3 separate regions of the Homo sapiens genome follow, and all the other regions are linked to region 2. Evidence: fine-mapped expression QTL. A gene starts in region 2. Each other region holds a variant in brackets. All regions are shown on one strand. Distances are from middle to middle.

What was found. PIP is the estimated chance that this variant, and not a neighbour inherited with it, causes the effect.
Region 1: its variant is fine-mapped to the expression of C1RL in whole blood (TOPMed, PIP above 0.99).
Region 3: its variant is fine-mapped to the expression of C1RL in whole blood (INTERVAL, PIP above 0.99).

The regions. Positions count from the first base shown.
Region 1 is chr12:7,008,546-7,012,545 of GRCh38, reverse strand. All of the region lies in intron 1 of LPCAT3 (lysophosphatidylcholine acyltransferase 3), which reads left to right. Among named protein-coding and RNA genes, the nearest start is that of LPCAT3, 7.9 kb to the left of the region's middle. The variant A/C (reference allele first, on the strand shown) is at 1,778.
Region 2 is chr12:7,107,386-7,111,515 of GRCh38, reverse strand. C1RL (complement C1r subcomponent like) reads left to right here and starts at 2,302. Exons shown (of 6, transcript NM_016546.4): 1 at 2,302-2,406; 2 at 3,037-3,265. The coding sequence starts at 2,336. C1RL-AS1 (C1RL antisense RNA 1) reads right to left here and starts at 3,208. Exons shown (of 12, transcript NR_026947.1): 1 at 3,035-3,208; 2 at 2,569-2,843; 3 at 1,369-1,452; 4 at 944-1,218; 5 at 1-491. RefSeq lists enhancers at 2,361-2,440, 3,081-3,250, 2,083-3,282.
Region 3 is chr12:7,128,175-7,132,321 of GRCh38, reverse strand. It overlaps RBP5 (retinol binding protein 5), which reads left to right and starts at 3,433. Exons shown (of 4, transcript NM_031491.4): 1 at 3,433-3,619; 2 at 3,904-4,082. The coding sequence starts at 3,547. CLSTN3 (calsyntenin 3) reads right to left here and starts at 1,951. Exons shown (of 18, transcript NM_014718.4): 1 at 1,610-1,951. The coding sequence starts at 1,673. RefSeq lists silencers at 935-1,004, 2,095-2,194 and an enhancer at 1,152-1,653. The variant C/T (reference allele first, on the strand shown) is at 2,454.

The sequences.
Region 1 (4,000 bases), 99 kb after region 2:
AATAGCTGGCATTTATTAAGGATTTTCTGTGTACCAGACATTGTCCTAAATGGTCAACAGGCAGTTCCCCACCTAAACCTGCCAGTTACCCGTGAGGTAATTATAGTGCTGTTAAGATCTCCTGGTACAGATAGGAAAGTCAGCCCTACAAAGATTGAGTAAGTCACACTGAGTTCTGCCTGACTCCAGAGTTCCTGCTCTTTACCGCTGAGATTGGGAGGAGCATGTGGGGCTGGAAAAGATAAATGCCCTTGGTGTCCTTTTCTCTTTTCACTCTCAGTGGTTAAACCAAGATGCAATCAGTATATGAGCCACCTCTCAGTGTCCAAAGCTAGAGCTGGCCAAATGGAGCAGATGGCCACCCTGCTTACTGTGAGTGTTCCCTAGTCTTGGCCATGATGGTGGCTTGGCTGTTAGACTGATCAAAAATTGCAGCTGGGGGTAACAATTCATCCCTCAGAGGTTCAGAATTAGCATCACTAAAGTTAGCGACCTTTAAAATCAAAGGAGGTCCTGCAGTTTAGTTCCCTTTGGACCAAAGTCAGGTCTGGCCCTTCAGAAAAAAATCCATTATTCAGTGCAGAAAGCTTTCTTCAGGTAGCACTGGAATCACAATATAAAGAGACCAAAGGTAAGCTAGATGAAAATTAAGCAGCATTAATGAAACAAAGAGACTTCTGACCATAATACAAAGCAGGGTCCAAAAATTCTACTGCTATAAAATAGGGAGACTGTCCTAAATGACTTTCAAGGACCCTTCCAATTTTAAAAGTCTAGGTATATTACTTCTACATGTTTAGACTTTATTCTAGTTCATAGCCACAAATTTCATCATAATCTAAACCTTCCCGTTTGGGAATTTCTTTTTCTTTCTTTCTTTTTTTTTTTTTTTTTTTTTGAGACATGGTGTTACTCTGTCATTCAGGCTGGAGTGCAGTGGTGCAATCTCAGCTCACTGCAACGTCTGCTTCCCAGATCAAGCAATTCTCTAGCCTCAGCCTCCTGAGTAGCTGGAACTACAGGCGTGAGCCACCATGCCTGGCTAATTTTTTCTGTATTTTTTGTAGAAACAGGGTTTTACCGTGTTGCCCAGGGTGGTCTCAAACTCCTGAGCTCAAGCAATCCACCAGCCTCAGCCTCCCAAAGTGCTGAGATTACAGGCATAAGCCATTGCCCCTGGCCAAGAATTTCTTTTAAATACAATTTTCCAGGTCAGGCACGGTGGCTTACGCCTGTAACCCCAGCACTTTGGGAGGCCAAAGCAAGAGGATCACTTGAGTCCGGGAGTTCAAGACCAGCCTGGGCAACATAGTGATACCTCATCTCTACAAAAAGTGAACAAAATTAACTGGGCTGGGTGGCATATGTCTGTAGTCCCTGCTGCTTGGGAGGCTGAGGTGGAAGGATCACTGGAGCCCGGGGTCCTCCGCTCAACTCAGGACGTTGAGGCTGCATTGAGCCAAGATCATACCTCTACACTCCAGCATGGGCAAAAGAGCAAGATTCTGTCTCAAAAATAAATAAATAAATTTTGTTTTTAATTAGCCAGGCATGATGGCATGCACCTGTAGTCCCAGCTATTCAGGAGACCAAGGTGGGAGGATCATTTGAGCCCAGGAATTTGAGACTGCAGTGAACTATGATGATGCCACTGCATTCCAACCTAGATGACAGAAGGAGACCTCATCTCTAAAAATAAATATATATATTTTTTCCAACCACTTTTTATCTATACCCCAATGTCTTACATTCCATAAAACATCATGTTTTGAATTCC[A/C]GTATAACTTTATCGTTAAACATGTTTCTTTGCAGAAGCATGTATAAGTTAGGGTCCACAAGATTATTTGCATAAGCTAATTTACAAAAAAAATTATATAATCACTGACATGAAAGCATGTCTGGGCAGCCATGGGAGCTCATATGAGGCGTCCAGTTCAGTCGCCTTTTAAAAATGATATTTGCATTAGCTGGGCATGGTAGCATGTGTCTGTAGTCCCAGCTACTCAGGGGACTGAAGTGAGAGGATGCACCAGAGCCCCAGAAGTCAAGGCTGCAGTGAGCCATGATCACATCACTGCACCAGCCTGGGCAACAGGAGTGAGGCCTTGTCTCAGTCAGTCAATCAATCAATCAATAATGGTATTTGGTCTTCTGAAAGAAAGTGACATTTTAGCTGGGCCTTAAAGGGGATGGTAAGATTCTAGTAAAGTAGAGATGAAAGCGGAGGAGCTTTCCAGCTACAAAGAGTAATCTGGAGATCAGGAAGAGTAAGACCCTGTCTGTCCCTGAATCTAAGGAAAAAGAAAAAAAAATTTTGAGAAAAATCTGAGGAACAGCAAGTAGTCCTCTTTAACCAGAACAATAGAAGATCGTAAAAGAGCAGTAGAGAAAAACATGATAGGCCTTTTATGTAGGTGGAGGTCAATGACAGAGTAAGGTAGTAACATGTGCATTGTCTTTAGAGATCTTCTGGCCTAGGTTCAAATGCTGGATCAAATAAATATGTACTAGCTGTTTCACCATAAGCTCATTACCAGAGTTCAACCACCCATTTCTTTATATTCCCACAGGCCAATTTTACTAAAGAATTGCAATGAAGAGTTAAGCAATTTATCTGATAAATATTTTTAGATTTATATTTCATTCATAACTAGCAGCAGTATTTTGAAACAGAATACAAAATTTATATGAATTTTTAAAGTAATACAGTCATCAAAGAAATTTTCTATTTCTAGAAGACTGCTTAGGCATACTCTTTTGTGATGTGTTCATTCTCCTTTGGCCTGGAAAAGTTTGAGAACTGTTGCTCATTGGGATGTTGTAAGGACTAAATAAGATAAACTATGTAAACACTTAACCATGCTTGACCCAAGATCATCTTAAATAATTGTTCTTCCCTTCCCTGTCAATAAATATTTATTTTCTCCCTTTCCAAGGAGACACAAAGTATGGTCTTGTGACCAACAGCATCTGTATCTTATGGGAGCCTGTTAGAAATGCAGATTCTTTGGTCTACTCCAAAACTACTGATTGAGAAACTCTGAGGATAGTGCCCAGTAATCTGTTCTAGCAAGCCAGGTTATACTTATTACTCTAGAGTTTGAGGATTACTAATTTAGCATATTTCTTCCGGTGCCTATTTTGTAGTACTTGATGTCCTGATAGTACCTTTTTGGAATGTCATTGGCCAGGCGCGGTGGCTCACGCCTGTAATCCCAGCACTTTGGGAGGCCGAGGCAGGCAGATCACCTGAGGTCAGGAGTTGGAGACTAGCCTGGCCAACATGGTGAAACCCATTTCTATTAAAAAGATAAAAATTAGCTGGGCATGGTGGCACATGCCTGTAGTCCCAGCTACTTGGGAAGCTGAGACAGGATAATCGCTGGAACCCAGGAGGCAGAGGTTGTAGTGAGCCGAGATTGCACCATGGCACTCCAGCCTGGGTGACAGAAAAAAAAAGAAAGGTCATTGTATCCTGTACTCTTTGGAATAAACAAAACTCTTAGATTCCTTATGGTTTAGTTTTTCCCATTTGTAGGCCTGACAGATAGGAAAGTTGGGCCTACAAAAATTGAGTAACTTGCTTAAAGTCACATTCAGTTCTGCCTGACTCCAGAGTTCCTGCTCTGGATGTTATCTGAGGAATAAAGAGATGTTGTTGTTATTATGTTCACATTGTTATTATGTTCACATTGTTATTATGTTCATTATCATGATCATCACATACACCATCTGTTTCACACTTTTGATAAGAAGGTTAGATACAGAGGAGTTGTGTTTTTTGTTTTTTTTTTGAGATGGAGTCTCACTTTGTTGCCCAGGCTGGAGTGCAGAGGTACAATCTCAGCTCACTGCAACCTCCACCTCCGAGGTTCCAGCAATTCTCCTGCCTCAGCCTCCGGAGTAGCTGGGATTACAGGCGTGAGCCACCACACCCAGAGGAGGAATTTTTTTAATAAGGTTATTGGACTAATGGCTCCATCTTTTTTGTGTTGCATCA
Region 2 (4,130 bases):
GTGGCACCGTCATGGCTCACTGCAGCCTCCATCTTCCGAGCTCAAGCAATCCTCCCACCTTGGCCTCCCAAAATGCTGGGATTATAGGCGTGAGCTATCGTGCCCGTCCTAAAGAACTTTCTTTAGCGCTTCTCATAGTGGAGGTCTGCTGGCGACAAGAATCTCTGTTTTCTTTTATCTGAAAATAGCTTTATTTCATCTTCATTCTGGAAGAATACTTTCACTAGAAAAACAATTCTGAGTTGACTTTTTTTTTCCTTCAGCATTTTAGAGATATTCCACTGTCTTCTGGTCTATATTGGTTTTGATGAGAAAAGAGTGACATTGAAAATATTGTTCTGTCTAGTCTTTAGGATGGGATTAAAAAAAAGAAAAGATTTTCTCTTGTCTTTGGCTTTTAGCAGTTTGACCATGATGTGCCAAGGCATGCCCTTTTTTTCATTGACCACTCTGCCAGTTAGAGACGAGGTCCCAGTGTAGGGGAGGTGGTGCTGAAAACACAGCGGGGCACAGCTCAGCCCTAGCCCACAGGGGCCTGCAGTGACCAGCTATGCACAGAGCCATCAGCTCCTTCTCCAGTCTCACATCACCAGCCATTCCTCCCCTTGCCCTTGACCCTAACTCATGCTGCAGCCGCACACGCCACCTAGGTGAGACCAAGGTGGGCCCTCATCTTCAGAGTGCTGGATTACCCCAAACAGGGACCACATCCAGACCCTGGACTGCCCAGTCACCTGGGGCTGCCGGTGCATCACTGCCTCCCCACCCTCTTGGCTCCCTGTCCTCTTTCTCACCCAGCCTCACTCCAGCACTTTAACCCCTATCCATTTAGGGTGACCACCAGTCCTGGCTTGCCCAGAACTTCCCTCATTTTAAAACGGAAAGCCTCATGTCCTGGGAAACCCGTCGGTCCCACGCAAATCAGAACAGTCGGTCACCCTACCTGTCCTGGAGTTTCCTTCCAAGGCCTTACTCCTCCCTCCTCCAGCTCATCTCCAGGAAAGTCTTCTCAGATGGGCTAGCCTGAGTTTTCCAGTTCCTGCCCCTCTTAGCAAACAAGGAAATAATGCTCTGAAGGGAAACGAGGGGTGGACTCCCCAATCCTGATCTGAGTCTTGGCTGGTTTCTTCTTAACACATGGGTCTTGGGATTGGTACCATTGTTCACTCTTTGGCTGCATCTCTGGCTCCCAAGGTGCTCCAGGTGACCCTAAGAGTTCTATGAGAGAGCAGGTTTCAGTGGTCTCAGGGGAGGAAAGAAGTCCTAGTCAGAGAGGCCCACTCCTCGAAGATGGGTATGGGAGATCATCCCCAGTTGTGTTTGGGGTTGGGGTGTGGCAGACAGGTAGGCTTGATCTCAAGACTGTACCTGAGACATTGCATCTGTCCTGGCCATCACTCTCTTATCATCTCCTTGTAGCCATAGACTGTGGCTCTCCTAAATCTCTCTAGCCTAGAAAAACCAAAGATGCAGAGCACACCCTGTTTGGGTCTGTAACTTGCCTCCATATTACTATATGCAAAATGGGGGAAGCAATAGATTCTTCTCTGAGAGGTGTGTGTGCGCGCGCACATGCATTTGTGTGTGCATACAACGTAAGGCCTTCCACACACCTGCCTTCTCTGAGGATGGGACCACCCATCTCCATAAGAGCCTTCTGGCCTCCTACCAAGCTGTGGGTGAGTGTCCTTCCTCGGGGAGCGGTGAGAGCAGGCAGGGGCTCTAGTATCTGCCTAAAGAAGCTTGAGTGACGGCTTGAGTGATGACTGGGACTAGGGACTGAGGGACACCTGGGCTCGACCCCAGCCCTGACCATGCTGGACAAGCAGCCTCCAGAGGTTGTGAATAGGATTCAAAAGACCACCTAAGCGCATGTCCCCCACCCCTGCTTGGGGAGGAGGGAAAGGAAGAGAAAGCTCAAGTTCAAGGATCACAAACTTCAATTCTACAAGAGGGAGGCTCCCCGGGTATGTCGTGAACGGAAAGGTCGGGGAGGAAGAGACATGGCTGATTGAAGGCAGCAGCCATAACTCACAAGGAGCCATCCTACACACATGGCAAAAATTAATGTTAAATAGTACAAAAGGGTCGAGTCAGTGCCCTGCCACCCTGACCTCTGAGGGCCAGCGAGGTTTTTGGACGTTTCTCCCCTAAGCTGCGGCGGGCCCGCTGTTCCTGAGTCAGACGGCAGGTGGCGCTCAGCCCGGAGAATTGGAGAAGGGGAACTGTGGAGTTGCTTAACATTTCCAGGAACTTCCTCCTCCCCCACCGGCCTTCACCTTTTGTTCCCTATCCTGGGCCAGTTCTCTCGCAGGTCCCAGATGTCCAGTTCCAGATGCCTGGACCCAGAGTGTGGGGGAAATATCTCTGGAGAAGCCCTCACTCCAAAGGCTGTCCAGGCGCAATGTGAGTGTGGCCCCGGCAGAGGAGGAGGGAAGAGGACGGGAGGGGAAGAGAAAGGGTGGGTGGCCGCAAACCCTCCCTCCCCCCACCCTACCCCCCCCACACACACATCCCCCCCCCCCCCACACACACACACACACACACACCTCCCCCACATACACACACCAGCAGCAGCAGCAGCAGCAGCACAGCAGATATTCCATGGGGAGACTGAAATTTGCCTGTGGCCTCTAGCACCTTCCCAGAGGGTGGTCGGGGGATATTTACGGCAGACCCTCACTCGCCCCACCATTGCTCCCTCGGATCCCAGGGTGGGGTGGGATCTGCTGAAGCAGAAAGCACCCCCCTCCTTTGGACGAGACTCTCCTGGGAGATGAGCAAAGGTGATGTCTTCGGAGGATGGAAAACCCACAATCCTAGAGCTCAGGCTGCGCGGGAGGCTGTAGGGATTGGGGTGAGGAAGGGGAGCAAGGGAGGAGACGGGAAGTGCCCGGGCCTCAAGGGTGAGGCCACAGCTTCTAGCCCTGCCTCGCGAGGCCTCTGAGTCCTAGCGCGGCTCCCCCGCTCCTCCCACACCCACAGGCTTCCGGCCATAGCTGCGCGGCCCCACCTTGCCCTCCCCCCAACTCACAGGTGGTGGCTGCTTCTCTGGGGAGTCCTCCAGGCTTGCCCAACCCGGGGCTCCGTCCTCTTGGCCCAAGAGCTACCCCAGCAGCTGACATCCCCCGGGTACCCAGAGCCGTATGGCAAAGGCCAAGAGAGCAGCACGGACATCAAGGCTCCAGAGGGCTTTGCTGTGAGGCTCGTCTTCCAGGACTTCGACCTGGAGCCGTCCCAGGACTGTGCAGGGGACTCTGTCACAGTGAGCTGGGGATGGGGGGGGTCCCGCCAGGACTGTGGCCAGGGAGATTCCCGGGGTTGTGGGAAGTGGCGGTGCCCTGAATCCCCCATCTGGAGGAGGGATGAATTTTCCATGTAGGGGCAGTCGGGCTTGGCTTACCGGGGAGCAGTGGTGGACCCCAGGACACAGCCTCCCACCAGCGCCTCCGGGGCTGCCATCTGGGCCCCACAGAGCAAAGAGGGCAGCAAGCAGGCCCTGCGTTTGGAAGGCTTATGAATGGACACACAAATCTTGCAAATCTATGGAGCCAGGGGCAGGGACGCACATATTGGTTGTTAAAAATATGTCATCATGTATTTGTTGAGTGCCTGCTCTATCAGGTGAGGAAGCTGGACACAAATAATAACAAAAGATTAAGTCACCGTTCACACTTACCTTGGAAGAGCTATTACAAAACTTCTAACGCCAAAGCCTTATTCAGAATAAGGACATTTTAAAAACAGTACTTGATGGAGTGATGCAAGCTTGCAGTCCCAGCAGTATAGTCAGGAGACTGAGGCTGGAGGATCAGAGGGCTGGAGCCCAGGGTTCAAGGCCAGCCTAAGCAACATAGCAAGACCCCATCTCAAAAATAAGTAAATAATAAATAAAAATAAAAAGAGCACATTATCTTTTGATTTAAATTTTATTTATATCAAAATGACATAAATTTTTGAACTTTATTTTTTAATTTTAAAATTTTTAATTATTATGGATACATAATAGTTGTAAGACTTTTTGTTTTTTAATTAAAGTTTTCTAAGGCTGGGCGCAGTAGCTCATGTCTGTAGTCCCAGCACTTTGGGAGGCTGAGGCGAAAGAAGCACTTGAGCCCAGGAATTTGAGA
Region 3 (4,147 bases), 21 kb before region 2:
AAATCCCGTCCCTGCTTCCCACCCCCACACCCAAGAGAACACATTCGAAACCGACACATTTCTATGTCCTCCACAAGACCATCAAACCACATTCCCTGAAACCCACTTTTTATACAGAACTCAATCCCAGTTCTTATCTACCCCATCCCTCTTCCCTTCAACCACCAGCCAATTCAGAATGGATGCGGGACTCATCAGACTCCAAATCTCCCCATCTTCTACCAGATTCAGCCTGGTGAGGGGCTGTGGGGAAGCATATTTCCTCCCCTTCCACATCACCCCCCACCCCAGCCTCCACGCTTGCTCTAATCCCATCATCATGCCAACACCCAGGCTCCCAAAGCACAATCATGAGGCAGAGGGAAACTGAGTCACCAAAAGGAACCTCATCCCCAGTATCTCACGGTGAGCAAGAAACCCTGATTTCCATTCTTTCCTCCAACCACACACCAGCAAGCCTTTGGCATGGGAAGGCTTTCTTACTGATGACCACCATAACCCCTTCCTGAATGCTGAGGAGAAAGCCACAAGATGGTGCACAGGAGGCGGTACAGGAAGTGGCAGGAGGCTAGGAGGCGAGGCTGAGGTCAGAGATGCAGGCAAGGAAGAGAGAGCGGTGGAAGGGCAGGGCTGGGCGCCCTCTGCACAGCTCCCCCTCCCACCCTGCTTGTCTTCCCAGGTCTCTGAGCCTCTGTCTCCTCTCCTCCTGGCCCCCTGCGGTCTCTGCGTTTGCTCCCTTTCACTCCTAGGCTCCCGGGCTCCTCCTTGACTCACTCTTTTCCTGATTTTCCTCATTCCTCCCTCTTTTTTCTGCCTCCACCTTTACCCTTTTCCATCCCCTCCTTACCCCCTCCCACGCCTCATCTCCGGTCTTCTCCTTCTCAGCTTTCCCTCTCATACTCATTTAGCGCCCCCCACACACCCACTTCTGCCCTTTCCTGCCAGTCTCCATCCGTTTCCACCTACCTGAGCCCTCTGCCCGCAAGCCCTCCCTCCCGTCCTCCCTCTCCGTCTGTCCGACAGCCCCGCCCAGCTGAATGTATCCGCTGTCTGCCAGAGAGGGCAGCTCTGGTAACCCACAGCCCAGCTGATGCAGGCAAAAGGGTCTGAATGCAGAGGCACACGCAAAAAACATACGTGCTCCGAATTGCTGAACTGCAGCAAATACTTTCTCCCCAGGATGGGATGGAGGCGAAGCAGATGGATCTGCCACACACCCTTAGCATGCGCCAGTGAAAGGGAGAGCCGCGGGGAGAGGCCTATCACCGGCTCGGGGGCAGTCCTTCCCAGACCCGAGGTAGCCACCAGCGTGTAGAAATTAGGGGAAGGGGAGAATAGAGACCCCAGGACGGGAATGGAGACCAAATGGGAGCAAGATGACCAGCAAGAGAAACGCATGGGTAGAGATGGACCAGAAAGGAAGATGTAGCTGGGGGAAGAGAAAGAGAGGAGACGGAGCAGGTCTGAGAACGGATGGGAAGGAGGGTGATCAGAAGAGGGCCAGACACCTGTCAGGTGCCAGGGAGCCTCGACACCTCCTTCCCACCCCCACCCCGCACGGCGCTGCCCGACGCCCCTCTTTCGGTACCCCCACCCCCACCTCACTCACCTTTGTTACAGGAGCAGGACGCGAGCAGAGAGGCCAGCAGAAGGGGCAGCAGCAGGAGGGTCATGGTGCGGCGTGGGGCAGGGCAGGGCCAGGCGTTTGCCTCCCCTGGGAGCCTCCAGCCTGCGGATTCCACCTTGCGGGAGGGATACAGGGGGTCTCCAAGGAGCGGGGTACAGCAGGGCAGGGACGGAAAGGAGCCTGCCGCCCACACTAGTCCATAAAGCGGGCCTGGGCAGATCCCAATCTGGGTAGCTGAGGCGGTGGACTTGCAGCGGCTTCCCGTTTCCCCCAGCCCAGCGTCCTCACTCTCTCACTCCCACCCCAACCCCGCTACTGCAGGATGACGTCAGCACAGCCGGGCAACGATTGATGGGGCCGCCGGCCAATCAGGTGACTGGGAGGGGGGGGGACCAGGTGCTGCAGCGGGGGAGGGAGCCAATGAGACTGGGGCGTCGGGGCTGGAGAGTTTCAAGGCTCCTTCCCCTGGCTGCAATTTTGGGGGAGCCGAGGAACTGCGGGGGCTGGGGAGGAAGCTGGAGAGCCACGGAGGGGGTGGGAAAGAAGAGGGACGTGGGGAGAAAGAAGCCAGAAGCCAGGGGGTGGGGAAGAGAGACGTCAGCGGGACCTGAGGGCGGCCAGGAGGGGTGGCACCGCGTCACCCCGCCCCCCAACTCTGCCATAACCTGTTTCCACAGCCCCTTCCATCCACAGATCCGTGCTGCGTGCCCTCTGGGAAGGGTGAAGTAAAACCCTCAGTCTGAGCCTGAGAAATCCTGGCATTTGTAGCCCAGGGCTGCGAGGAAGCCACAGGGCGGTCCGCAGGGCGGTATCGAGGCTCTGGGAC[C/T]CAAGGAGGGGCAGGACGTCGTGCACCCCTCGCGCACGCACCTGTCGGGACCGGCCGCCTCCTCCTGCCTACCTGTCCTGCCTCCTTCGCCCCGAATTTCACCTTAAACCATGATGAACCAAGCCCAGTGGATTCTGAAGCCCGGGACGATGGCAGGTTCGAGAGAGAATTGGGCAGCTGGGGGCGGGGCACAATATTATTTAGGCGCCTCCACCCCACCTTCACAGAAATACATCTGGAAAGCATGGGCTGTCCTAGGGCTGGGGACTGGGGGTTACGGTCTCATCGATGACTCAGAGGGAGAGAAAACCCCCTGGGTCCCAAGCCAAAAAGAATAAAATTCTCCAGAATAGCCAACAAACTCCTCTCAGGCTGTCTGTTCCGGACTTTGAACTCAGCACCCCTCGGGCTCCACCTCCCTCCTAATGGCTCTTTAGGACCAAGAGTCTGGAATGCCACTTTGGGGTCCCAGTTGAGCACACTACCTGAGGGAGCTCTGAGAGCCAGGCCTACAGGGTGCTCTTCATGGTGGCAGCTGGCCATCCTCACCCCCTCCCCTCACATCTTCCAACATCACTCAGTCCCAGGATCTCAGGATATTGTTGGAACTCATCTCCACCTCACACAGCCAGACCAGCCTCAGGTGTCTCCCAGGAAAGACTGCCCCTCAGGCCCTGGGACGGTTCCCAAGCCTGCCAGAAATGAGGTGGAGGCCAACACTGACCTTTGGATGGCTGAGTTTTGGATGACTGACAGCCCCAGATCCTGCTCCAGGTTCCTTCCTCAGGAAGGATCCTGCTCCAGGTTCCTTCCTCAGGAAAAGCCAAGGTCAGGCGCAACTTTGCCAAATCCCTGCCCCTCCTTCAGGCTGGAGACACCACCCCCAAACTCACCATGCGGGGAGGGAAGAAGTCTGGTAGGGACTCTTATTGCAACAGGGCCCCAGCCTTATAAAAAGCCCTGGTAACCCGGCCATTACACATCCTGTCTCTGTGTGTGGAGCTGGCTGGAATCTCTCAGCCTCACCTGCCAGACAACACCCCCTCCTTCCTCACCCTGTCTCCTGCATTCTCCTGAAACCTTCATCCACACAATGCCTCCCAACCTCACTGGCTACTACCGCTTTGTCTCGCAGAAGAACATGGAGGACTACCTGCAAGCCCTAAGTAATGGCCTCGCCCTCCCAGACCCCTGTCACTCCCTTTCTCCCCTCTTCCTTCCTGCTTCTTGGTCCCATGGAGAAGAGGGAATGCCCGGGGTTGGACACTGTGGAAAGGCTCAGGCGGCTGGCACCAGACCTGGGATCCATTTCTAACCAGGCATTGGTAGGAGGGGGTGAATCCACAGTCCCAGACCCAAAGAAGGGAAACTCACAGCCCTGAGGGGCTGCTGCAGGCAGAGGAGCTCCTGGCTGGCTAGCAGCACCCCTACTAACAGGCAGCCCCCACAGACATCAGCTTGGCTGTGCGGAAGATCGCGCTGCTGCTGAAGCCGGACAAGGAGATCGAACACCAGGGCAACCACATGACGGTGAGGACGCTCAGCACCTTCCGAAACTACACTGTGCAGTTTGATGTGGGAGTGGAGTTTGAGGAGGACCTCAGGAGCGTGGACGGACGAAAATGCCAGGTACATTTCCCCTGGCTGGGCGGTGGCCGGAAGGAGGCATCACAGGAGACTCCTAACAACATGGG